2 separate regions of the Homo sapiens genome follow, and region 1 is linked to region 2. Evidence: fine-mapped expression QTL. A gene starts in region 2. The other region holds a variant in brackets. All regions are shown on one strand. Distances are between the middles of the regions. Region 1 overlaps ZBED3-AS1 (ZBED3 antisense RNA 1). Region 2 holds the start of ZBED3-AS1 (ZBED3 antisense RNA 1).

Evidence for each region. PIP is the estimated chance that this variant, and not a neighbour inherited with it, causes the effect.
Region 1: its variant is fine-mapped to the expression of ZBED3-AS1 in thyroid (GTEx, PIP 0.96).

The regions. Positions count from the first base shown.
Region 1 is chr5:77,118,904-77,130,770 of GRCh38, forward strand. The region is part of intron 2 of ZBED3-AS1 (ZBED3 antisense RNA 1); the gene reads left to right. It overlaps LOC124901008 (a long non-coding RNA gene), which reads right to left. Exons shown (of 3, transcript XR_007058827.1): 2 at 10,917-10,980; 3 at 8,805-8,881. It also overlaps a transcript of PDE8B not described here. Among named protein-coding and RNA genes, the nearest start is that of ZBED3, 38 kb to the left of the region's middle. The variant G/A (reference allele first, on the strand shown) is at 4,934.
Region 2 is chr5:77,080,123-77,091,989 of GRCh38, forward strand. ZBED3-AS1 (ZBED3 antisense RNA 1) reads left to right here and starts at 6,593. Exons shown (of 3, transcript NR_182763.1): 1 at 6,593-7,497. It overlaps ZBED3 (zinc finger BED-type containing 3), which reads right to left and starts at 7,163. Exons shown (of 3, transcript NM_032367.4): 1 at 6,989-7,163. It overlaps SNORA47 (small nucleolar RNA, H/ACA box 47), which reads right to left and starts at 449; the gene lies at 312-449. It also overlaps a transcript of PDE8B not described here. RefSeq lists enhancers at 6,821-7,422, 7,423-8,025, 8,026-8,626 and a silencer at 6,835-7,004.

The DNA.
Region 1 (11,867 bases), 39 kb after region 2:
CTTAGCCTGGATATGCCTAAACTTAAGCCAAAACAAAAACTCATAGACAGGTAGTTTATTTGCAAAATGATACTAGGGATCAGGAGTAAGGAATGAGAGTAAAGCAGGGGAGGAAGAAAAGCCACTGCAAGCATGCACTGTCAACAGAGGAAGGACCAACAAGCACATGAAAGGTCTCAGTGTTACTAGTCACCAGAATTCAAATGAAAACCACCACGAGATACCTACTAGATGCCTATTAGAATGGCTACATTAAAAAGACTGCAGCAACAAATGTTGGTGAGGGTGTGGAACAGTCAGAGCTCTCATCAATTGTTGGTAGGGGTGTAAATTGGTACAACTTTGGAAAGGTCTGGCACTTTCTTAAAAAACTAAACACACACTTTCTATGACCCAGCAATTTCATTCCTAGATATTTGCCCAGCAGAAATGAAAATATCTGTATATAAACAGACTTGTTTAAGAATGTTCATGGCCTGGCGTGGTGGCTCACGCCTGTAATCCCAGCACTTTGGGAGGCTGAGGCGGGCGGATCACGAGGTCAGGAGATCGAGACCATCCTGGCTAACATGGTGAAACCCCGTCTCTACTAAAAATACAAAAAATTAGCTGGGCGTGGTGCAGGCGCCTGTAGTCTCAGCTACTTGGGAGGCTGAGGCAGGAGAATGGCATGAACCCAGGAGGTGGAGCTTGCAGTGAGCAGAGATCGCGCCACTGCACTCCAGCCTGGGTGACAGAGCAAGACTCTGTCTCAAAAAAAAAAAAAAAAAAAAAGAGTGTTCACAGCAAGCAGCATTATGTGTTATAGTCAGAAACTGGAAACAGGCCAGGCACGGTGGCTCATGCCTGTAATCCTAGCACTTTGAGAACCTCAGATAGGAAGATCGCTTGAGGCCAGGAGTTCGAGACCAGCCTGGGGAACATAGCAAGACCCTGTTTTCACAAAAAATAAAGACATTAGCCAGGCATGGTGGCACACATCTGTAGTCCTAGCTACTTAGGAGGCTGAGGTGGGAGGATCACTTGAGCCCAGGAGTTCAAGGCTGCAGTGACCTATAATCACCCACCCTGGGTGATACAGTAAGACCTTGTTTCTAAACAAAACAAAACAAAACAAAAACTGGAAACAGCCCATTAACAGAAGAATGGATAAAAAAACTGTGGTATGTTCATGCAATGGAATATTGCCCAGCCATAAAAAGGAATAGAGTATTGATATAATAATATGGGTAAATATTAAAGCATGCTGGGTGAAAAAAGCCTTACGCAAAATAATATGGTATTTTCCTATTTAAAGTTCTAGAATAGGCAGAACTAATCTGCAATGAAGAAAAATCAAAATAGTGATCTGTGCAGATGTGGGCGTACAAGTAGGAGTTGACAGAGAGCAGGCATGAGGGAATGTTCCTCTACATCTTCAAAGGAGTTTGGGTTACACATGTCAATGTACTTTTCAAAACTTACTGAATGGTACACTTACAAGTGTTCATTTTATTGAATATAAATTTTGCCTTAAAAGAAAGACATCATAAATGAATACTGAAGTTTAGTTAATGATATGCATGCTGAAGTGTTAAGGGTGAATTATACTGTTATCTGAAAAGTACTTTGAAATGCATTAAAAATAAAATAGATTAGTAGATGGATAGAATAATAGATAAATGGATATACGTATGATAAAAGAAATAGAATAAGATATTAGTTGTACAATCTAGATAGGGATATATGGGTTTTGACTGTAGCATTCTTTCAACTTCTCTGTATGCTTGAACATTTTTATAATAAAAAGTGAGGTAAAAACAAAAACACATGATCACATTGGCTACAACTGAGCAACTGTTGTACAAGCCTGTCAGGACCGTTGAGGAGTTTTCTGAAATCTACTTCAGAACCTAACACCTGGGTGGTGGAAGGGAAAACATTTATCTGTTGGCTTCTTTCTCCTTGTGTCAGTGCTTAAAGCCCTCTTGCAGGTGCCCTGCACCTTAGAGAATTCCCAGGGTAGGGAGCTAGAGTACACAGCATGCATGGGCTGATGTGGCATGCTTCAGATTGCACCTGTGTGTAGCTGGTCAAAGCCTATGCAGAACCAAGAGTCAAACAAGAGGATGGAAAGTGCTCCAGAAGTATTGTGTTAGTTACTCATTGCTGCTTAACAGATTACCCTCCAAACTTAGTGTCTTACAACAAACGAACAGCTATTCTCCACAATTCCTGTGGGTCAGGAATTCAGGAGTCACTTAGCTGGCTGGTTCTAGCTCAGGGTCTGCCATGACATTATATTCAATATTTCAAGCCAAGGCTGCATTCATCGGAAAACTTGATTGGGGCTGAAAGATCCACTTGCAAGGTGGTGCATTACATGGCCCTTGGCAGGAGGCTCCAGTGTCCCTGCCACATGGGCCTCACAGTAGGTCTGCTGAGTGTCCTTGTAACATGGCACATGGCATCCCCCAGAGTGAGTGATTATGGGGGGAGGAAAAAGTCACAATGTCTTTTATGACCTGGTTTTGGAAATCACCCGCTGTCACTTCCACCACCTTTTATTATTTAGAAGTGAATCACTAGGTACATTTCACACTCAAGGAGAAGGGAATTAGGCTTCCTTTTTTTTTTTTTTTTGAGACAGAGTCTCGCTCTGTTGCCCAGGCTGGAGTGCAGTGGCACAATCTTGGCTCACTGCAACCTCCGCCTCCCGGGTTCAAGCAATTCTTCTGCCTCAGCCTCCCGAGTAGCTGGGACTACAGGCGTGCGCCACCACGCCCAGCTAATTTTTGTATTTTTAGTAGAGACGGGGTTTCACCATATTGGCCAGGCTGGTCTTGAACTCCTGACCTCGTGATCCACCCGCCTCGGCCTCCCAGAATGCTAGGATTACAGGTGTGAGCTACCGCTTCCAGCCTAGCTTCACTTTTTGAAGGAAGGAACATCAAAGAAGTTGAGAACATGTTTGGAAACCACAACAGATTTCCATTACGTTTCACCTTTGCACTTCTTAGGACTTTTGTGCTCTGCATTAAGTCCAGTCTGCCCAGAGTCTTCTTCTAGAGAGTGGCTAGCTCCAAATCCTACAAACACTAAATACAGGAAGGTGAATAGAACAAGTTACATTCCCTGCTGATGCAACAGGTTCCAAATCCATAAATAGTACTTGTCATCTCCATTTTCCACCATTTGCTCTAGATTTCCCTTAACCTTAGCCAATTATTTGGCTGATGTAGGTTGCTTTCCTGATGGCTGACTCAAAACTTTACCTCTGAGGGGTCTGAGCCTTTAGTTGACCTTGTAAAGTCATGATCACTGCGATTGCCCATCCACCATCACCAGTCATGGAATCATCAATAGATGTCCCTGTGAATCTTCTATGTCCTAGACACAGTCCTTCCTGCACACATAATGTAACAGCAGCCTTAGCTCTTCATGGTAATCAGAGTCGATTACTCTTTTCAGCATAGGAACACCTCTTTTTTCTTGCTGGTCTACTGCCATGAGGAACCCAAAATTCAAAAACAATAATCACACTTTAAGGTGAATGGAAGCGCTATCATTTCTGCTAGTGCGTACATTCACCCACCTGAAAGTGGGACAATTAATTCAGCAGAACCTAGGCTCATTTGATGGGAAATGCACAACACTTTTAAGTGGATCATGAGAAGTGATGGTGAGGGGGGCAATCCTACTTCTACCTCATGTTTCCTGGACCAATGTTGCTAGACACTGGGAACATAACACCATGTATCAGCTATTGTTTTAGCACATATATACAATATTTTGGAGGACAGTGTCATTACCAACAGGTCGTTCTACCTGAGCCTGAGCTGACACTAAAAATCCTTTTCAAAAACTTCTGCTTTCAATCATGAAGGAGTAAGCCAGCCTGCAATTACATTTTGAAAGTAAGCAACTAGAAAACTAAACAAAATGTAGGAAAAAAACTATTTTAAGACATTGGGTAAGAGTCCAACGAGATTGTGATCCCCATGAAAAGGAAACGAAAGGGGCAAAATACACCCTGGTGTAGGCTTTCTGCCTGCAGGTAGCTCCAAGATTGTGATTCAGGGAGATGAAATTATACAAAGTGTTGTCATTGAATTGAACAGAGATTATAGTTCAAGAAGACCAAGGTAGCTATGATTTATAAGGCAGAGCACCTGTCTAAGTCCATTTTCTGTTGTTATAACCAAATACCTGAGACTACTTAGTTTATCATGAAGAGAAATCTATTTCTCACAGTTCTGAAGGCTGAAAGTCCAAGGTTGAGGGGGTGCATCTGGAGGGCCTTCCTATTGGTAGGCAATCTCTGCAGAGTCCCGAGGTGGTGTAGGGCATAGAGAAGGAGCTAAGCATGCTAGCTTAGCTCCTCACGAAGCCACTCATGTCCCACACTCGTGACTTTATCTCATTCTAATGACATCCAAAGGTGCCGCCTCTCAAATACTATAGTTGAATTCCTCCCCCACCGCCCCCCGCTTAATATTGTTACAGTGGGGATTAAGTTTCAACATGAGTTTCAGAGGGGACAAACACTCAAACCATAGCATTACTTGAGAGGAGAGCTCTCAAGAAATCTTTGGCTGGGTGCAGTGGCTCACACCTGTAATCCCAGCACTTTGGGAGGCTGAGGTGGGTAGATCGCTTGAGCCCAGGAATTTGAGACCAGCCTGGGTAACATGGCGACATCCTGTCTCTACAAAAAATACAAAAAATTAGCTGGGTGTGGTGGTGCACACCTGTGGTCCCAGCTACTTGGGAGGTTGAGGGGGAGGATCCCCTGAGCCTGGGGAGGCAGAGGTTGCAGTGAACCATGATGGTGCCACTGCACTCCAGCCTGGGCAACGGTGAGACTCTTGATTCTTTGCCTGAACACCAAACTAGTCAGGAATAGGATGAAATCCCATAGGACTGGACAAGAACAACTTTCAAGGAAAGAATA[G/A]TTCTGTGTAAGCTGTGAGACAAATAACCAATAACCAGAGTTCACACAGAGCTGGGAATCATTTGAGTTCCCTCTAGTCAGAGTAAACAGACCTTGGTGAATACACACGACATTCAGTAAAAATCCTGGAAAGGCAACAGTTTGAAGTGGGGCTAAATTATTTCTCAAATAAATGCTACTCTAGAACACGCTAAAAGAGCCTAGAACATACCTCAAAAGGATCAAACTAATCTGCAAGTAAAAGTCCAACAGAAAAGATTCAACACTCTTCAAAGAAATACAGAATTTCAGCACCCAACAATGTAAACTTTACAATATCTAGAATCTAATCTGAAATTAATAGACATATGAAGAAAAAGAAAATATGAAGAACAGTCAAGAGAAAAATTGGTCACAAGACTCAGACCCAGAAACAACAGAGACTATGGAATTATCAGACAAGAAGGTTAATATAGCTATTGGAAATATGTTGGCTAGGCCTGGTGGTTCACACCTGTAATACCAGCTCTCTGGGAGGCTGAGGCGGGTGGATTGCTTGAGCCCAGGAGCTCAAGACCATCCTGGGCAATGTGAAAATCCATCTCTACACAAAATACAAAAAATTATTCATGTGTGGTGGTGCACACCTGTATCCCAGCTACTTGGGAGGCTATGATGGGAGGATCGCCTGAGCTGAGGAGGTTGAGGCTGTAGTGAGCTGAGATTGTGCCACTCACTCCAGCCTGGGTGACAGAGTGAGACACTGTCTCAAAAAAAAAAAAAGAAAGAAAGAAAGAAATATGTTTCTTATATAAAGAGATGAAAGGACGTGAAAGTTATAAGAAATAGAAGATTTATAAAGGACTAAACTCAAGCTTTTAGTGATAAAAATACAACATCCAAAATTGAAAATACACTGGATAGATATAATAGCAGATTAGACACTGCAGAAGAAAAGAACAGTGAACATAATGACACAGGAAAAGAAGCTACCCAAAGTGAAGCACAGAGAAAAGATGGAGAAACAGCACATCAGTGAGCTGGAGAACAATATCATGTGTGCATCTGAAGTAAAAGAAGGAAAGGAAAAAGGAGGGAGAAAAATGTTTGAAGAATTAATAGTAAAAGAAATTTCTAAATTCTTCACACCTGTTAGGATTTTCACGTTGTTTTGTTTCACTTTTGAGGAAAAAGAGACAGGGTCTTGCTCTGTCACCCAAGCTGGAATGCAGTGGCACTCATAGCTCACTGCAGCCTCAAACTCCTGGGCTGGCTTCAGTGATTCTTCCACCTCAGCCTCTGGGGTAGCTGGGACTACAGGCATGCACCGCCATGCCAGCTAAATTCTTTTATTTTAATTTTTTTTTGTAGGGATACATTCTTTCTATGTTGTCCAGGCTGGTCTCAAACTCCTGGCCTCAAATGATTCCCCCGCCTTGGCCTCCCAAAGTGCTTGGATTACCACGCCCCACTGTTTTCTTTAAAAAGGAAAATAACAGTTGTTGGCAAGAATGTAGAGAAATTGGAACTCTTGTGCATTGCTGGTGGGAATATAAAATTGTGCAGCTGCAATGGAAAGCAGTTTGGTGGTTCTTCAAAAAGTTAAACAGAGAATTACCATATGATTTAGCAATTCCACTCCTAAGTATATGCCCCCAAAGAATTAAAAGCAGAGACTCAAATAGATACTTGTACACCAACGTCCACGGAAGTGTTAATTTGCAAAAGCCAAAAGGCATAAACAATTCAAATGTCAAAACAGACGAATGGATGTATACACATACAATGGAATATTATTCATCTTTTTAAAGACAAGAAATTTGGGTATCTCCTACATCATCCTTTCAAGGATGAACCTTGAAAACATTATGCTAACTAAACTAACCACAAAAGGAAAAATATTGTATGATTCCATTAATATGAAGTACTTACAACAAACAAATTCATGGAGACAGAAAGTAAAATAGAGGTTTCCAGGGTCTGGGGGAATAGTAGATTGGGAAGTTATTGTTTAATGAGAACAGAGTTTCAGTTTAGGGTGATAAAAAAAATTCTGGAGATGGATGGTGGGAATGGTTGCATGACAGTGAGAATATACTTAGTGCCACTCAACTGTACACTTAAAATGGCAAATTTTATGTTCTGTATATTTTACCACAATAAAATTAAATCTCTTAAAAGTTAGTTACAGCCGGGCTCAGTGGCTCACGCCTGTAATCCTAGCACTTTGGGAGGCTGAGGTGGGCGGATCACGAGGTCAGGAGATCGAGACCATCCTGGCTAACACGGTGAAACCCCGTCTCTACTAAAACTACAAAAAATTAGCCAGGTGTGGTGGTGGGCACCTTTAGTCCCAGCTACTCAGGAGGCTGAGGCAGAAGAATAGCTTGAACTGGGAGGTGGAGGCTGCAGTGAACTGAGTTTGTGCCACTACATTCCAGCCTGGGCGACAGAGCAAGGCTCTTTCTCAAAAAAAAAAAAAAGTTAGTTACTACTGTTCAAGAATAAATTGTGCCTTATTTGCCAATATACGTCATTTGAGGAGGATGACAAAAATTGAAGAGCTTGATGGAATTCAGTTTTGAAAAGTGAGATCTATCTGTGTTTCCTACAAACTTTATTTTTTTTGAGACAGGGTCTCTTTCTGTCACCCAGGCTGGAGTGCAGTGGCACAATCACAGCTCATTGCAGCCTTAGTCTCCTGGGCTCAGGTGATTCTCCCACCTCAGCCTCCCGAGTAGCTGGGACTACAGGTGTGTGCCACCATGCCTGGCTCTTTTAAAATTTGTTGTCAGGGTCTCTCCATGTTACCTAGGTGGTATTGAACTCCTGAGCTCGAGCAATCCTATCTGCCTTGGCCTCCAAAAATGTTGGGATTACAGGCGTGAGCCACAGCACCCGGCCCTACAAACTTTTAAGAAGATAAATGCTTGTAGAAATTTAATTACATTTTGCTTCTATGAATTCCTGATGAAAACTTTCTGAAATCTGTCATAAATACATAATCAAAAGAAAAAATAAATATCTTTAATATTTTCACATCCCTGAGCTTTCTGACTCCTTCCTTAGTGCTATGGCAAGCTCCAGTCCAGGCAAGTTGCAGCTTCTGGACTTTATTTATTATAGGCCACTATTTTGTCCAAGCCTCAAGAAATCACTCTTGCAGTGTATTGCTACAGGTATCCTTGCCAGGACACTGAGTTTTCTGATCAAGGAAGGGTGCTCCCAGGTCAATAAATTCACCATTATCCAGCTTTCTATTCCACTCACCCACCCTAGTGCAACATCCTCAAGATCCACTTTCACAAGCTTATCCAGGTTCCTGCCTGTATACATTACCCAGGTGAATGGTTTGGCTCTGTGTCCCCACCCAAATCTCATCTCGAATTGTAATCCCCATGTGCTGAGGGTGGGGCCTGTAATCCCCATGTGTTGAGGGAGGGAGGTGACTGGATTATGGGGGAGGTTTCCCCCATGCTGTTCTCGTGATAATGAGTGGGTTCTCACGAGATCTGATGATTTTATAAGCATCCAGCATTTCCCCTGCTTACACTTCTCACTCCCGCCACCCTGTGAAGGTCTTTGCTTCCTCTTTGCCTTCCACCATGATTGTAAGTTTCCTGAGGCCTCTGCAGCTATGCAGAACTGTGAGTCAGTTAAACCTCTTTCTTTTATAAATTACCCAGTCTTAGGTATTTCTTTATAGCAGTGTGAGAACAGTCTAATACCCCAGGTCCTTCAGTTTCTTTAGTAAACTATTTCCTACTGCAGCAGGGATACATTTCCCCACCTGCTTGAGCCAAAACCTGACTCCAGTTATCATGGAGTCAGTTAATTGGAGATGGAAGGAGACCTTGAGGAAGACAGACATCACTTTGCAAAGCAAGATTCAGGTGAGGTATTTTCAGGGTCTCCTGGCAAGATGAGGCTGATGTCCCCAGCAAGGAGAAGAAGGCTGACTTTGCTCTCCTAGAGGATGAAAATTAATCTAGTGACTCAATATTCTCAGACTTGTCTATCCTATCCCAGCTCTTAAGATTTTAAGCTTTTCCTATCAGGGTTCTAACTTTGAAATAGGAGATCTGTGAAGGCTTGGCGTTCTGTCTCCTCTATGACTTTGTCAACTGTTGTCTTAATCTTCAAGACAGTATTCCCTGTGCCTGCAGGAGATCAAATTCTTTTAACCATTGCTCTATTTCACCGTGGGCTTGAGTTGATAGTTGTCTAACATGACCCTGTCATTTTCTTATTTTGAGACTTTCAAAGCAGTTAACAAAAGCCAGTGAATTCCCCATTCCTTTACAATTATAATTGCCTCCATATTGTCCAAGGACCATAGTTACCACTTGACCCAGAGCCTCTCCCTTCCACCTGTACCTCATCCCAATCCACCACAGGTGAGAACCTTAATTGTGTTGCTGCTGGATCTGCACTTACCACTCAAGCTGTGATGGGAATGATGAGAAAAACGTTCTTCTCTTACAGTGACCGTCCTGGCTACCTGCAAAGTATGCTTAGAATTCTAGATTCCTTTGAAGTCTGGGTAAAGATCTCCCAAGGGCTGGCTGATGGGGACATGGGGATTCTTAATCCTGTTCACCTACAACGTGCCATCCAAAGGGAACCTCAGAAGTAGTAATTGCCCACCTTTATGGGTTGTGCATGCATGACTGCCAAGCAGCTTTCCACAGGCATCACAGACTCTGGTGTCAGACAAGCCTTGGAGCAAAAGCTACAGATCCAGTGTCTGGGCTGAGGCAAGGTCAGGTTATGCCTGTGTGGAACTGCTTGCCTTCACCAGTGACTGGGGTAAGTGGCCAGGCCAAAAGGATGTGAAATGGTGCTCAAGAGTTCTGGTCCCCTGGAGGCCCTGACTGGAGCCAAGTGTCAGCACACGAAACATCATCAGCTCATTCTGGAGCATTTACTTTAACTCAAGTATTAATAAATAAATTGGAAGTCAATTCACAGATGCATCGGACCAGAACTAGGTCAAAGTCTATTTGCCTAATCAATGCCCTGGCTACCCTTTTGTCTGTGTGGTTGTACGGGGTTTGGTTTGAGTCTGAGGACCATGATCACAAGTCCATTTCTCAGTGGACTAAACAAGAAACCTGGCTAAAGATTCCCAGACTTATTAACGTCCTTCCCTTTACCCAGATATTAGCTTGATGACAATTTCATTCATCAACCTAGGTTTGAACATAGTTTTCAGTGTCCAAATTCTTTCTGGATAGTTTATTTCTCTGTTCAGTTATTAGGTCTGTAATCTTTTGTATGATCTGTGTCCACATAAAAAATTACCAACGTTTTCCCAACTAGTTTAGTAGTGAAAGTACCATCTAATTTAAAAAAAAATCTTCAGTGTGGGGGAAAAGGAGGACAGATGTGATTATTAGACTGTCATCATGGGTCTCTAGTTGTTTTAAAAAGTTATAGCTACCTGAGGATTTTTTCAAAAGATTTTATTATGAAAAATTTTAAACATCCACAAAGTATAAATAATAAAATAATAAATCCCCGTGTCCCCATCAGCCAGCCCTTGGGAGATCTTTACCGAGACTCCAAAGGGATCTAGAATTCTAAGCATACTTTGCAGGTAGCCAGGATGGTCACTGTAAGAGAATGGTTTTTCTCGTCATTCCTGTCACATATTGAATGAGTGATCACATTTCTACCTTAGAAATGGATTACTTCCCCTCTGGTGGGTTTGTTTGCTCAGGTTCCCTTTAACCAGAGGGTATCAGGGCCGGGGCCAGGCATGAGGCAAGATCTAGCTGTGCCCACCGGAGGGAGCAGTGTCCTCCTGTTTCACAGTAATTTGCTGTGGATTGGCCCTGATACTTGTCAAGAGTTTTATTTAGCTCTGTTCTTCTCTTTCTGTTGGAATATCATTCATTTTTCTTGGACTGTGGGATGCGGTCCATGACCTTCACACTAGCTCTGGCATTACTGTCTGTAGTGTTTCGCAGTAAAAGAATTGGCATAACGTCACCCACCCTACCTCTACACTGTTTGACGTGCACATTTCCATCAGTCTAGGCTGCTCACTGTTTTCCATCTCGGTTCTGGGAAGCCAGAAAAAAATTGGTTTGAAATTGAATTTTTAAAGTATGTTTTTCTAATGAAACTCCTAGATGGCCTTGATTGTGTTTCCAGATCTCCTCTCATCTCGATTCTGTTTTCACACAGAGATGCAGTTGTTTTTCACAGTCTGGAGCATAGAGAAAATGTGGACTGCACTCTATGCTGATCAGAACCTATATAGACCTCTGGATTTTATTTTGGGCACTGCATTTGAAAGGATATAATGGCAAACTGGAGTGGGGCGGGGGTGAGGGAGGGGAACTAACAGATAGGTCTGAGCAATATCTGATGAACAATTAACCATGTAGAAAAGAAGACCCAGGGGAGGCAGAGTAGCTATCTGCAAAAGTTGTGTTGAAATATAGCTGTGATTGGTGTGGGGAAGTTAGAGAAAGCAAATTTCAGCTTATTATAAGGTTAGATTAGAAACATCCAATAGTTAAACTAGACTGACTCATAAAGACGTTAGTTCTCCTTCCTGGGAGTCAGATAAATGCCAGGTAACATCTCTCAGGAATATACTTCGGGGCGGGGAGGGGAGTTCCTCATAATAGAAAACCCATCTAGAACACTTATTTTCTTCCAAGTACTCTTCTAAGCACCTTTCCCTTATTATTTATTTAACCCTCATGACAACCTTATGAAATAGGCACTTCAGATCCACAGCTTTTATCTGAAAACCTTAGGACCAAAATTCTTAATTTTTTGGATTTTAGAAAGGTATATGACACATACACCTTATGGTAGAAAACACCCCCATGGGGCTGTTCTCCATAATCAAATACATTGATATTTATACAGTGAGGCATGTGAATTTTTGCATTAAATGGAATACTTTTACATGAGTTGGGTTACGTTTTGTTGCCAA
Region 2 (11,867 bases):
CATTCTGATATGCTTTCTTGAGCCAAAGCTTGGAAACTGCACATAAACCCGCAGATTCTCTTACTTGTGCCAAAGTCTGAGAGTCATCCTTACTGATGTGCCCCTGATAGTGCCAGAGGTGACTGATTACTGTCATGCTTTTTACCTCTCTGGGTTTCCTTAAAAACTGGAATGCCCAGAGGGAGTGTCGCACAGGTGAATGCCATCTGTTAGGAGTTAAAGTGGGCACAAGGATGAGAAGCACTGACTTCGATGTCTTAATCCTTTTGACCTAGTGGAAGCCTCACCTGAGCCAGGGACAGGCTGCATCACAAATGTCGGCCAGCACAGCGCTGCCCCTCCAAGGGTGGCAAGGGGACATCCTCTGCCTGGGCAGCCCTTCGATTTTGGAGGTCTTAACCGGTGGAAGGCAGCACGGGGCAAAACTGCCTCACCTTCTCAGTCCTCCACATCATGCGGCTATATTCTAGCTCAATACAATCCTCAGTCTCAGTATCTGCTGAGTGACCAGCAGTCTATGGCCACAGGCCGTAACAGCCTGGTTAGCTGAGCAAACTATCACAAGGACAGAAAACCAAACACCGCATGTTCTCATTCATAGGTGGGAATTGAGCAATGAGAACACGTGGACACAGGGTGGGGAACATCACACACAGGGGCCTGTCGTGGGGTGGCGTGGGAGGGATAGCATTAGGAGATATACCTAATGTAAATGACGAGTTAACGGGTGCAGCACACCAACATGGCACATGTATACATATGTAACAAACCTGCACGTTGTGCACATGTACCCTAGAACTTAAAGTATAAACAAAAAACAAAAAACTCGAGTGCATTTCAGCTGCCCCTGCAATGTGGAGGGGGAGAAACCTCTTCAGACACTTCAGCCACAACCGTAACACACAAAGAGCTCTTCAAACACAATAAAAAGACAAAAAGACCGACAGAAAAACAGACGAGAAATATGAGTAGGCAAATGACCTAACAGCTCCACTGGCCAGGAAATTTATGAAAAGGTGCACAACATCACTTATATTCAGGGAAATGCTATTAAAGTAGCAATAAGGTATCGTTTTACATCCATCACACCAAGAAACATTAAGAGGTCTAACAGCCAAAGTTACAAGGGAGGTAGAGAAAAGGCACACTCCTCAATTACTAGTGAAGATGGGATGGATTTTAGGAAAGCATTCTGGCCATTTCTTTTCTTTCTTTCTTTTTTTTTTTTTTTTAATTTTTTTTAAGACAGGGTCTTGCTCTGTCACCCAGGCTGGAGTGCAGTGGCACAATCATGGCTCACTGCAACCTCTGCTTCCCAGGCTCAAGAAGTGATCCTCCCACCTCAGCCTCCAAAGTAGCTGGGACTACAGGTGCATGCCACCATGCTTGGCTAATTTTTGTATTTTTTGTAGAGACAGGGTCTCTGTTGCCCAGGCTGGTCTTCCTTGAACACCTGGGCTCAAGTGATACACCTGCCTCGGCCTCCCAAAGTGCTGGGATTACAGTCGTGAGCATACCCAATGAGAATGCATGTCATTAATTCTGTGGTTAGCTAATAAGAAGAAAATGAAAAGTAAGAGATCCCTCAATTTTTCCTTGAACATTTTTTAAAACTAACACAAAGGTGCCAATGAATTTGAGTATTTTGCTTACATCCATCCACTCCATCCAACTCTCATTCAAATGCTCATTGTGCACCTGCTAAGGTCAGGTGCGTGCTTTCTGCCAAGCATTCCAAGAGGAATGTCACATAGTCTCTGCCCTCAGGAAGCGTACCATCTGGTGGGGAAAGAGATGCTTCCAACAATTCTGATACCTGTGTGATAGGGCCAGCTGCAATTTCTATATTAATTAAAAATAGAGGCTGGGCTCGGTGGCTCACGCCTGTAATCCCAACACTTTGGGAGTTCCAAGCAGGTGGATCACCTGAGGTCAGGAGTTCGAGACCAGCTTGGCCAACATGGTGAAACCCTGTCTCTACTAAAAATACAAAAATTAGCTGGGCATGGTGGCGGGTGCCTATAATCCCAGCTACTTGGGAGGCTGAGGCAGGAGAATGGCTTGATCCTGGGAGGTGGAGATTGCAGTGAGCCGAGATAGCACCATTGCATTCCAGCCTGGGTGACAACAGCGAAATGCTGTATTGAAAAAAAAAAAAAAAAGATAACCTGAGATTCTACTCCTGGGGATCTCTTCTATAGAACTATCAGCACCAATAAACACAGTCTTGTATCAGGATGTTCACGTAGAATGACATCAGAATCTACATCAGAATCATGTAGAATGACAAGAAACTGGAAGCAAGGGAATGCCTACCACCAGGAAAATGGCTGAGTATATAACATATGTTCATACCAGGGAATATTATACAGCCATTAAAGAGGAAAAGGATGAAGTTCTGTTCAATGTCTTACAAGGATATCTGGAGGAACTGTTCAGGGAGAAAAGAGAGATGCAGAAGAGTGTATAATATGATCCCACTATTATTAAGTAATATACATATCTGTAGAGGCAATATATAGCTATAGATGAAGAAAAATAAGGAGATACTATGGTTGAGGCAATGGTAACTGATGTGAAAGGAGGGAGAAGGGGAAGAGGTAAACACAAAAGTAAAAGCAATGAGGTACTAAGAAAGCATGCATGTGATCACGTGTATACATTTAGGGAAAGTGTGTATATCACAGGATCTCTACATAAATAAAAAATAATTTTATAAAACAACCCTTGGGCCTGGGTGTGGTGGCTCACACCTGTAATCCCAGCCCTTTGGGAGGCCAAGGCAGGTAGATCACCTGAGGTCAGGAGTTCAAGACCAGCCTGGCCAACATGGTGAAACCCCGTCTCTACTAAAAATACAAAAAATTAGCTAGGCGTGGTGGTGGGTGCCTGTAGTCCCAGCTACTCGGGAGGCTGAGGCAGGAGAATCGCTTGAACCTGGGAGGCGGAGGTTGCAGTGAGCCGAGATTGCACGATTGTACTCCAGCCTGGGTAGTAAGAGCGAAACTCCATCTCAGAAAAACAAAAAACAAAAACAAAAAAGCAAAACAACCCTTGGCTCCTCAAGCATGTGAGCTCAGGCAGGGCCAGCCCAGCCTTAACTGTGGAGGCTGGTGGGACAGTCCCATGGGGAAGCCCACTGCTGCGCCGCTTGGAGGAGGAAACCCAGCATGTGAGGCTGCTCATTGTCACGTGGTTTGCTGTGCTCTGCAGAAGGAGATTCTGTGTTCACACCCAGGATGTCATGGAAGAGGAGCTCATCCCATTCATCTCCCTGGCACAGGGTAGACACTTGGGGGATGCTGCATTAAGTGAAGTGAACCTGACTCTGTTTCTTTAGCCCCAGCCCACCCGAGTCTCAATCTTCCCATCTGTCAAGAGAAATAATAAGATTATTTGCCTCTAAACAGGTGGCTGAGATCATAGATAGTGCAAATGATGTCACTGTTGGACTCTCCGGTGTTATATAAATTTAAGACATGAACAATAAAGAAACTACCGATATTTACTGCTCAGACATGCCCACGTTAAGATTTTAATGGCTAAAAGGCAGTTGTTTTTCCATCTGACATTATGTTATTCAACAGAGTAAGTAGTCTAAGTTGGAGGAATCCCCTTGGGAATTGACTACAAAGAGCAAATAAAAAAGAGTAACAGATCCAAGACCCTTACCCCTTAAATTTATTTTCACTTCCTAAATTGAACTTCATGCAAAATAGGTTATTTATCACTAGGGTAAAATAAGATAATGGGGAGGTTTAATTAGCCAAAGCCCTGTGATAACGCGTTTCTTCCTTACCAAATACCCAATGAGAATGCATATCATTAATTCTGTGGTTAGCTAATAAGAAAATGAAAAAAGCTCCCTTAATTTTTCCTTGAAAAAATTTTTAAACTAACACAAAGATGCCAATGAATGAGTATTTTGCTTACATCCATTCACTCCATCCAACTCTCATTCAAATGCTCATTGTGCACCTGCTAAGGTCAGGTGCGTGCTTTCTGCCAAGCATTCCAAGAGGAACGTCACATAGTCTTTGCCCTCAGGAAGCGTACGGTCTGGTTGGGAAAGAGATGCTTCCAACAATAATTCTGATACCTGTGTGATATGGTTTGGCTGTGTCCCCACCCAAATCTCATCCTGAATCCTACTCCCATAATTCCCACGTGTTGTGGGATGGAACTGGTGAGAGATAATTGAATCACGAGCGCGGTTTCTCCCATACTGTTCTTGTGCTAGTGAATAAATCTCACGAGATCTGATGGTTTTATAAACGAGAAGCCCTTTTCGCTTGACCCTCATTATAGCTCATGCCGCAGCCAGGTAAGAAGTGCCTTTCGCCTTCCGCCTTCCGCCATGACTGTTAGGCCTCCCTAGCCACGTGGAACTTTAAGTCCATTAAACGTCTTTCTTTTATAAATTGCCCAGTCTTGGGTATGTCTTTATCAGCAGCGCGAAAACAGATTACTAACACACTGTGGTAAAGGTGAAATCAGTGCTCACTCCTTCGGGTGAATTCCGTCACATAATCTCCACTGGGGAAGGGGTGGGCATGGGCAGCTCCTGGGAGCTGATGTCTTAGGGGCCCTAACACAAAAGTTCATGCAGTTCAGCATCCCTTCCCCTCCCATGCCCCACAGGGCACAAACGCATTGTTGTCCATCACCAAAACACATTACCCTTAGTACTCGACTCTAATGAAGTTCCAGTTCCTCAGTTGTATAACGAGGCTTCCAAGCTCCTATTTTAAAAGAAAGTTTCTTGAAGCTAAATAAAAGCACTGCTAACATGAAATTAACAGTGGAAATTTTTGAGTGTAATTTCAGGGTGAAAAAAACTGAAAAGACAAATGTAGATTTTAGATATTTCAAGGAAGGAGAGAGAGTAGTGTTGCTGGTACCATGCCTCTGCACTTGCTATAGCTGAGTTTCATTTGAGTATCCATTATTTGGAAGGAGTTCTTAAATCTAAGCCTGTGGAAGACAATAAATTCACATTAATTATCTCTCCATTTGACTCAATTTCTGAAGAAGTTCTATCCTTCTGATGAACTATCAGATTAAATCCCAGATTCCTCAGTATGATGTCCCTGAATACCAATATAAAGAATAAAGGAAGAGATCAAAACCTGGATGAATAATCTGTATAAACATGGGCATATACACAAGGTATGACTATAATATTGAGACTCATCCTATAAAGCACCTACAAAAGTTGATTGTATTATTTTATACTTATGCTTGTGCACATAAAAAATATTTGGCAGGCTAAAGGCCAAAGAACCAGGCACTGTTCTCAAAAGGACATAGCAGATTAACTACACCTCTATTTGTCCTTCTATACTCAAGGCTACTTACTGTAGTTGGGTTGACCAGGCAGAGTTTAAATCAATATATGTTGGTTGAGCCTGGATCTTAGATGAGAAATTCACACTAACGTGAAATTCACACAGACATATGTGGAAACACTAAAAACATTTTCTTTTACTTCATCCACCAGTGACTTTAATGAAAGCAGAGCATAATAATTAATACAAGTAATTAGAGTTGACAACTGAAGTGTCAAGAAAACCACAGTTCATCTGTTATCCGTCCATCTCTGTTGAAATATTAGTTTACTGCCATATATTAATCTATTTATAAAGAGATCCAGACAATTAGAAAAATTAGTCTGGAATCACCAGGCTGAAGGCTTAGCTGAAGTTAAAAGACAAGTAAAAATGCCTCCAAACTGTAAAACCTGAGTTGGGGAATAAATGGTAAAATGTGTAAAAATTTAGAAAAAGGTTATATGTGGACTGTAAAAAATACACTGGACTCACAGGTAATTAAGGGGTGAATCAGAGTTGTTTCCTAAATGGCATAAGCCAAACTCTTAGATATTTCTACCATTAGCTAAAAGGCAGAGAAGCACTCTCTCTCTCTATTAATGCACTTTTAAAAATGAAAATTGTGAAGTGTTCTGCCCTTAAAGTGGACCTTTATTTCAGGTCTGCATTACTTTGCTTAATAGATATGGTCCTAAAGATTAAGGTGGTGATCCATTTTATCTTGTAAAAATGCATAATTTAATCTGAGTTATAGGAATTTAAAGCTGCCCTACTTTGAAGGCCTTTGTGACTCAAAGATTTTTTTAATTTAATTTTTAAATTGAGAATTACCTGGCTTGGGCTTTTGGTCTTTTTATAATACGTATTGCTGTCTACTTTTTTTTTTATTCTTGGCTGCCTCAAGCTATTCTTGCCTCCAAAAGGTGTCAGCATATGAATAAAAACAGCAGAAAATAATTACCCTAATTAGGTCAATGTATTAAGCTGTTTCTACAACTGTTTCTCTTAAACACCTTATCTTTGTAGTCTTGGCTCATTAGAAATTCGACTAGTGGTAAGTATTTATTTTTTTCCTTCAAGGGGGTTTTTGCTTTGCTAAGCCTCGGGCATTTGGTTCGTGCAAGAAATCACAGAAACTGCTCCAGCGGACTCCGAAAGGAGCGGAAAATTCTTTTGTTTGGGGGCCATGAGGGGTGGGGGAGGGGTGGGGATTCTGGTGTAAGCTTTTGGCTTGCATTCGCTTTCTCCCTCCGAAAGTGGGCGACATCAAGCAAGTCCCAGTTACAGAAAGAACCCACTGCAGGGCGTCCAGTCACTTGCCCAGTGAAAAGACTGTAATCAGACAACTTTAATAAAGGGAGAGCAGGAGAGTGGTGACGAATTTCCACATTCCGAACAAGCTTGTCGAAAGAGGAGTGCAGGGAAGGAGCAAGAATGAGGCACTGGAAGACGGTGAGCGGGGCCTTGCCACAGAATCCCGGGCCCACCTGCTTTCTCACAGTCGCGACAGCCGGCCCGGAGAAGGGCAGCCCAGCGAAGGGCACGCCCCGCGCGGGTGCCAGGGAGGCCGGCAGGGGCGTCCGCGGTCGCTGCTCACCTGCGCTCCCCGCTGCCCGGCCCAGCCCGCCTCGCCACCGAGTCTGGAAGCCCACACTCACCCCTTTACCCGGGAAACGCGGCCGGAGCCGGCGGCGGGTCGGGAGTCCGAGATGGTAGATCCCCCTCCAGGCGCCTCGCTGACATTTTGTCCCGGACGGAAAACCTCCGCGCGTGCCCCTTAAAGACACAGCGCTGCATTCACACGTCTGCGGGGAAAGGGGGGCCGTCACGTGTGGCCTTCGCCCGAAAGCGGTAGGGGAGTCGCTCTGAAACCGCCAAGGATCGCGAGCGACAGATTTGTGTTGGCCAGGGTTTTAAGATGACGCAATAGCTGAGTGTGGTTGAAATGTAACTATTGTTTTACAACTTTGCATTAACCTTCCAAGACCTGAATTCCCGGGCCTGAGTCTCAGAGCGCGGTTTGCATCTTTGCAGGCTGTAGGCGCATGATGTCACAAGTTATTGGAAGAAATCCCTCCAACCTAGGTTGGGACAGATGAAGGCGGCGCTTATTGGTGTTCACCAAAACACCAGCATGGTGTACCAGCTTTGGCTAGATGATGCTCAGGTAACGAACAACCCCTGCAACTCAGTGGCTTAAAGGTCCATTTCTCAAGCGAATTACTGTGGCTGCAGGGAGCTTTGGCAGTACTCCACCAGTTTTCTTCACTCCAGGCTGAAAGGTCAACTTTTCTGGGCCATGCTCCCTGCTGGGCTGGTAAACCAACTTTGAGGGAGAAGGGGGAAGTCCAGATATGTAGTGTTTGCTATTTCTATGATGTAAATGCTCCCACAATGGCCGATTTCAAGCTACAAACAGTCCAACAAGTGGCTTGCCAAGTTCCTGGAAATTTAACAATTAGCTCCTGTACATGACTGGCACAAGCTGCTTTCCAAACTCACATTCCGCATGCCTCAGTTCTGCTCACTTTCTATTGGTCAAAACTTGCTGTCAGTGGGTGGGGAAGTGTACCCCTCTCTTAAGGAAGCCTTGCAAGTCTTGTGACAATGAAACAGGAGAGTTCCCTGATTTCCTCCCGGCCCCCGCCCTCCCACAGCCCTTTGCAGGACGTGCAACAGGGTTGTGGCTCGTGTGTTCGGTCTCTGCCTGCTGAAACCCCTTATGGGAGGTGGAGCATGCAGACGGACGGGTGCAGGAGCCAGGGTGCAAAAGCTGGGGCGCTGGGCTTCCAGCCCCACGGCAGTGTCCAGGGGCAGGATCCCGTGATTCCCGGAGCCCAAATGGGCGTGTGTTACAGTGTGCTCTTTTAGCCTTACCATCAGCTGACGGCTTAAGTGTTAACCAGCTCAATAGACCCTCTGCCTTTTTGCAAGCGCAGAGGGTCAGTGTGACAGTTTCTGTATCTCAGCTCTTGTCTCACCTCCCAGAAGAATCAGGTCACACATGGACTTGAAGGATGGTGAGTGCCGGGGTGGGGGCGGGGGTAGAGGAGTTGGGGGAAGGTTGGGGGTGTTTATTAGGTGGTAGGGGTGGCACTCAGTAGGATGGATGGGGAGCTGGAAAGGGGGTGGAGTAGGGAGATGATCTTCCCCTGGAGTTTAACCGTCCAGCGGTGGATTCTCTAACTGTCCCCAGCTGAACTCCACCCAATATTCCTTCTCTTTTCTCTTTATCTGCGGCTCTTCTGCTCTTCTGCTCTTCTGTTCATCTGCTCATCTTTTGCTGCTGGAGCCTGGTGTCTGGAGTTTATACGGGTACAGGATAGGGGGTCATGGAGGGCCAAAAGGTAACTTTTGGGCACAAGAACGGGAATGCCTCTCTTCATTTAGGGCCATGGGTTTCCAGGCTTGAGGGTGGGGCCTTTGCCAGGGAACGGCCTTATTCTACCCAGTAGTTCCCTGTCTACTGTCCCTATCAACAATAAGTGAGCTGAATAATATCCTTAAAAGAAGAACAAGAAATAACTGGGTACAATAATACAATCCACCATTCCAATAATGGTTTTGGAGGAAGAAACTGGTTGGGTATCTTCAAAGGCAGAGGTCCCCAACCCCGGGCCATGAACCAGTACCCTTTGTACCCTGTTAGGAACCTGGTGGCACAGCAGGAGTTGAGTAAGGGGCAAGCAAATGAGGGAAGCTTCATCTGTATTTACATCCGCTCCCCATGACTAGCATTGCCGCCTGAGCTCCACCTCCTGTCACATCAGCTGGGGCATTAGATTCTCATAGGAGCACAATTGTGAACTGTGCACATTCAAGGGATCTAGGTTGTGTGCCCCTTGTGAGAATCTAATGCCTGATGATCTGTCACTATCTCCTGTCACCCCCAGACGGGCCTGTCTAATTGCAGGAAAACAAACTCAGGGCTCCCACTGATTCTACATTACGGTGAGTTGTATAACTATTTCATTATATATTACAATGTAATAATAATAGAAATAAAGTGCACAATAAATATGATGCGCTTGAATCATCCCAAACCTATTCCCCACCCCTGTCCATGGAAAAATTGTCTTCCACGAAACCAGTCCCTGGTGCCAAAAAGGTTGGGGATTGCTGTTCAAAGGGATAATTTTGCAATGTGAAGGCCAACTATTAGGTTACTACTTTTCTTCTGGCCCAAAGGACACTTACAGCTACGGACATCTGATAAAAAGAAAAGTAATGAGTACACTGTTGGTGGGAATGTATAGCCATACACCCATTATGGAAAACAGTATGGCGGCTTCTCAGAAAACTAAAGATAGAACTATCATATGATCCATCAATTCCACCACTGGTTATTTATCCAAAGGAAAGGAAATCAGTGTATCAAAGGGATTCTTGTACTCCCGTTTATAGCCACACTATTCACAATAGCCAAGATACAAAATCAACCAAAGTCTATCAACAGATCAGTAAAGAAAATATGATATATATACACAATGGAACACTATTCAGCCATAAAAAAGAATGAAATCCTGTCATTTGCAGCAACATGCAGGGAACTAGAGGCCATCTTGTTAAGTGAAATAAATCAGACACAGAAAGGCAAAAATCACATGTTCACACTCATATGTGGGAGCTAAAGAAGTTGATCTCATGGAGGTAGAGAGCAGAAGGGTGTAGAGGTGGGGGAGTGAAGACAGGTTGGTGAATGGGTACAAGCAAACAGATAAGATGGAATAAGTTCTAGTTTTTGATAACACGGAAGGGTGACTGTATTTCCAAAGAGAAGATTTTTTTCTTTTTTTCTTTTTTTTGAGACGGAGTCTTGCTCTGTCGCCCAGGCTGGAGTGCAGTGGCACGATCTCGGCTCACTGCAAGCTCCGCCTCCCGGGAGCTTGTGTGGAGCTAGTGTTTTTATTCATGCCATTCTCCTGCCTCAGCCTTCTGAGTAGCTGGGACTAAGGGAACTACAGGCGCCCGCCACCACACCCATTAATTTTTTTGTATTTTTAGTAGAGACGGGGTTTCACTGTGTTAGCCAGTATGGTCTCGATCTCCTGACCTTGTGATACACCCGCCTCAACCTCCCAAAGTGCTGGGATTACAGGCGTGAGCCACCGCACCCAGCCGAAGAGAAGATTTTTTTTCTATGAGTTTGACTTTAATTTCTAAGATTCCACATATATATGAGATCATGCAGTATTTGTCTTTCTGTGTCTGGCTTATTTCACTTAGCATACTCTTCTCTAAGACATCCATGTTGTTGCAAATGGTAAGAGTTCCTTTTTCTTTAAGGCTGAATAATATCCGTGTGTGTGTGTGTGTGTATGTGTGAATACACACCACAGTTTCTTTTTTTATTCATCAGTTGATGGACACTTAGATTGTTACCATATCTTTTGGCTTCTGTAAATAATGCTGCAATTAACATGGGACTGCAGATACTTCTTGGAGATAGTATTTTTATTTCTTTTGGAAATATACCCAATAGTAGTATTAGTGGATCATATGGTAGTTCTATTTTTAATTTTTTGAGGAACCTCTCTATACTATTTTCAATAATGGCTGCACCAATTGACATTTCCACCAATAGGGTACAAGCATCCCCATTTCTCTAATCTTCACCAATACTTGCTGTCTTTTGACTTTTTGATAATAGTCATCCTAACAGGTGTGAGGTGATGTCATTTTGACTTGCAATTTCTCTGCTAATTAGTGATGTCGAGTAGAAGAGAAGATTTAAAATGTTCCCAATACAAAGAAATGATAAATGTTCAAGGTGATGGGTATCCTGATAACCCTGACGATCATTACACATTGTATGCATGCATCAAAATATCCCATGCACCCCATAAATACATACAAATATTTCGTATCAATAAAAAAATGAAAAAGAAAAGTAACTAGTATAAATGGCCAGGTGCAGTGGCTCACGCCTGTAATCCCAGCATTTTGGGAGGCCCAGGCGAGTGGATCACCTGAGGTCAGGAGTTCAAGACCAGCCTGACCAACATGGTGAAACCCCATCTCTACTAGAAAAATACAAAAATTAGCCGGGTGTGGTGGTGGGTCCCTATAAGCCCAGCTACCTGGGAGCCTGAGGCGGGAGAATTGCTTGAACCCGGAGGCGGAGGTTGCAGCGAGCCGAGATCGTGCAACTGCACTCCAGACTGGGCGACAGAGTGAGACTCTGTCTGAAAAATAATAATAAAATAAAATAAATAAATAAAAAAGAAAAGTAACTAGTATAAACAAATCAGGTTAAAGTCATCTCTAATTCATGTTTCAATATTTGAACAATTTTTTACAGTTTATTGTATCTGGTAATTCTTTTAAGAAGAAGCTTTATTGCTTTGAGTGTCTAAAAGAATCCATTTAACTTTAAACTGACCACGTAATGAGATACATGATATTTTCATTAGTTCATAGAGGAGTTTTTAGTAAGTGCTGGTTATGGGCAAAGCACCATCTTAAGCCTAAGCAGGAGTCTGGAGACTATTCCTGCCCTCAAGAGGATTACACTCCAGTATGACAGTAAGACATATG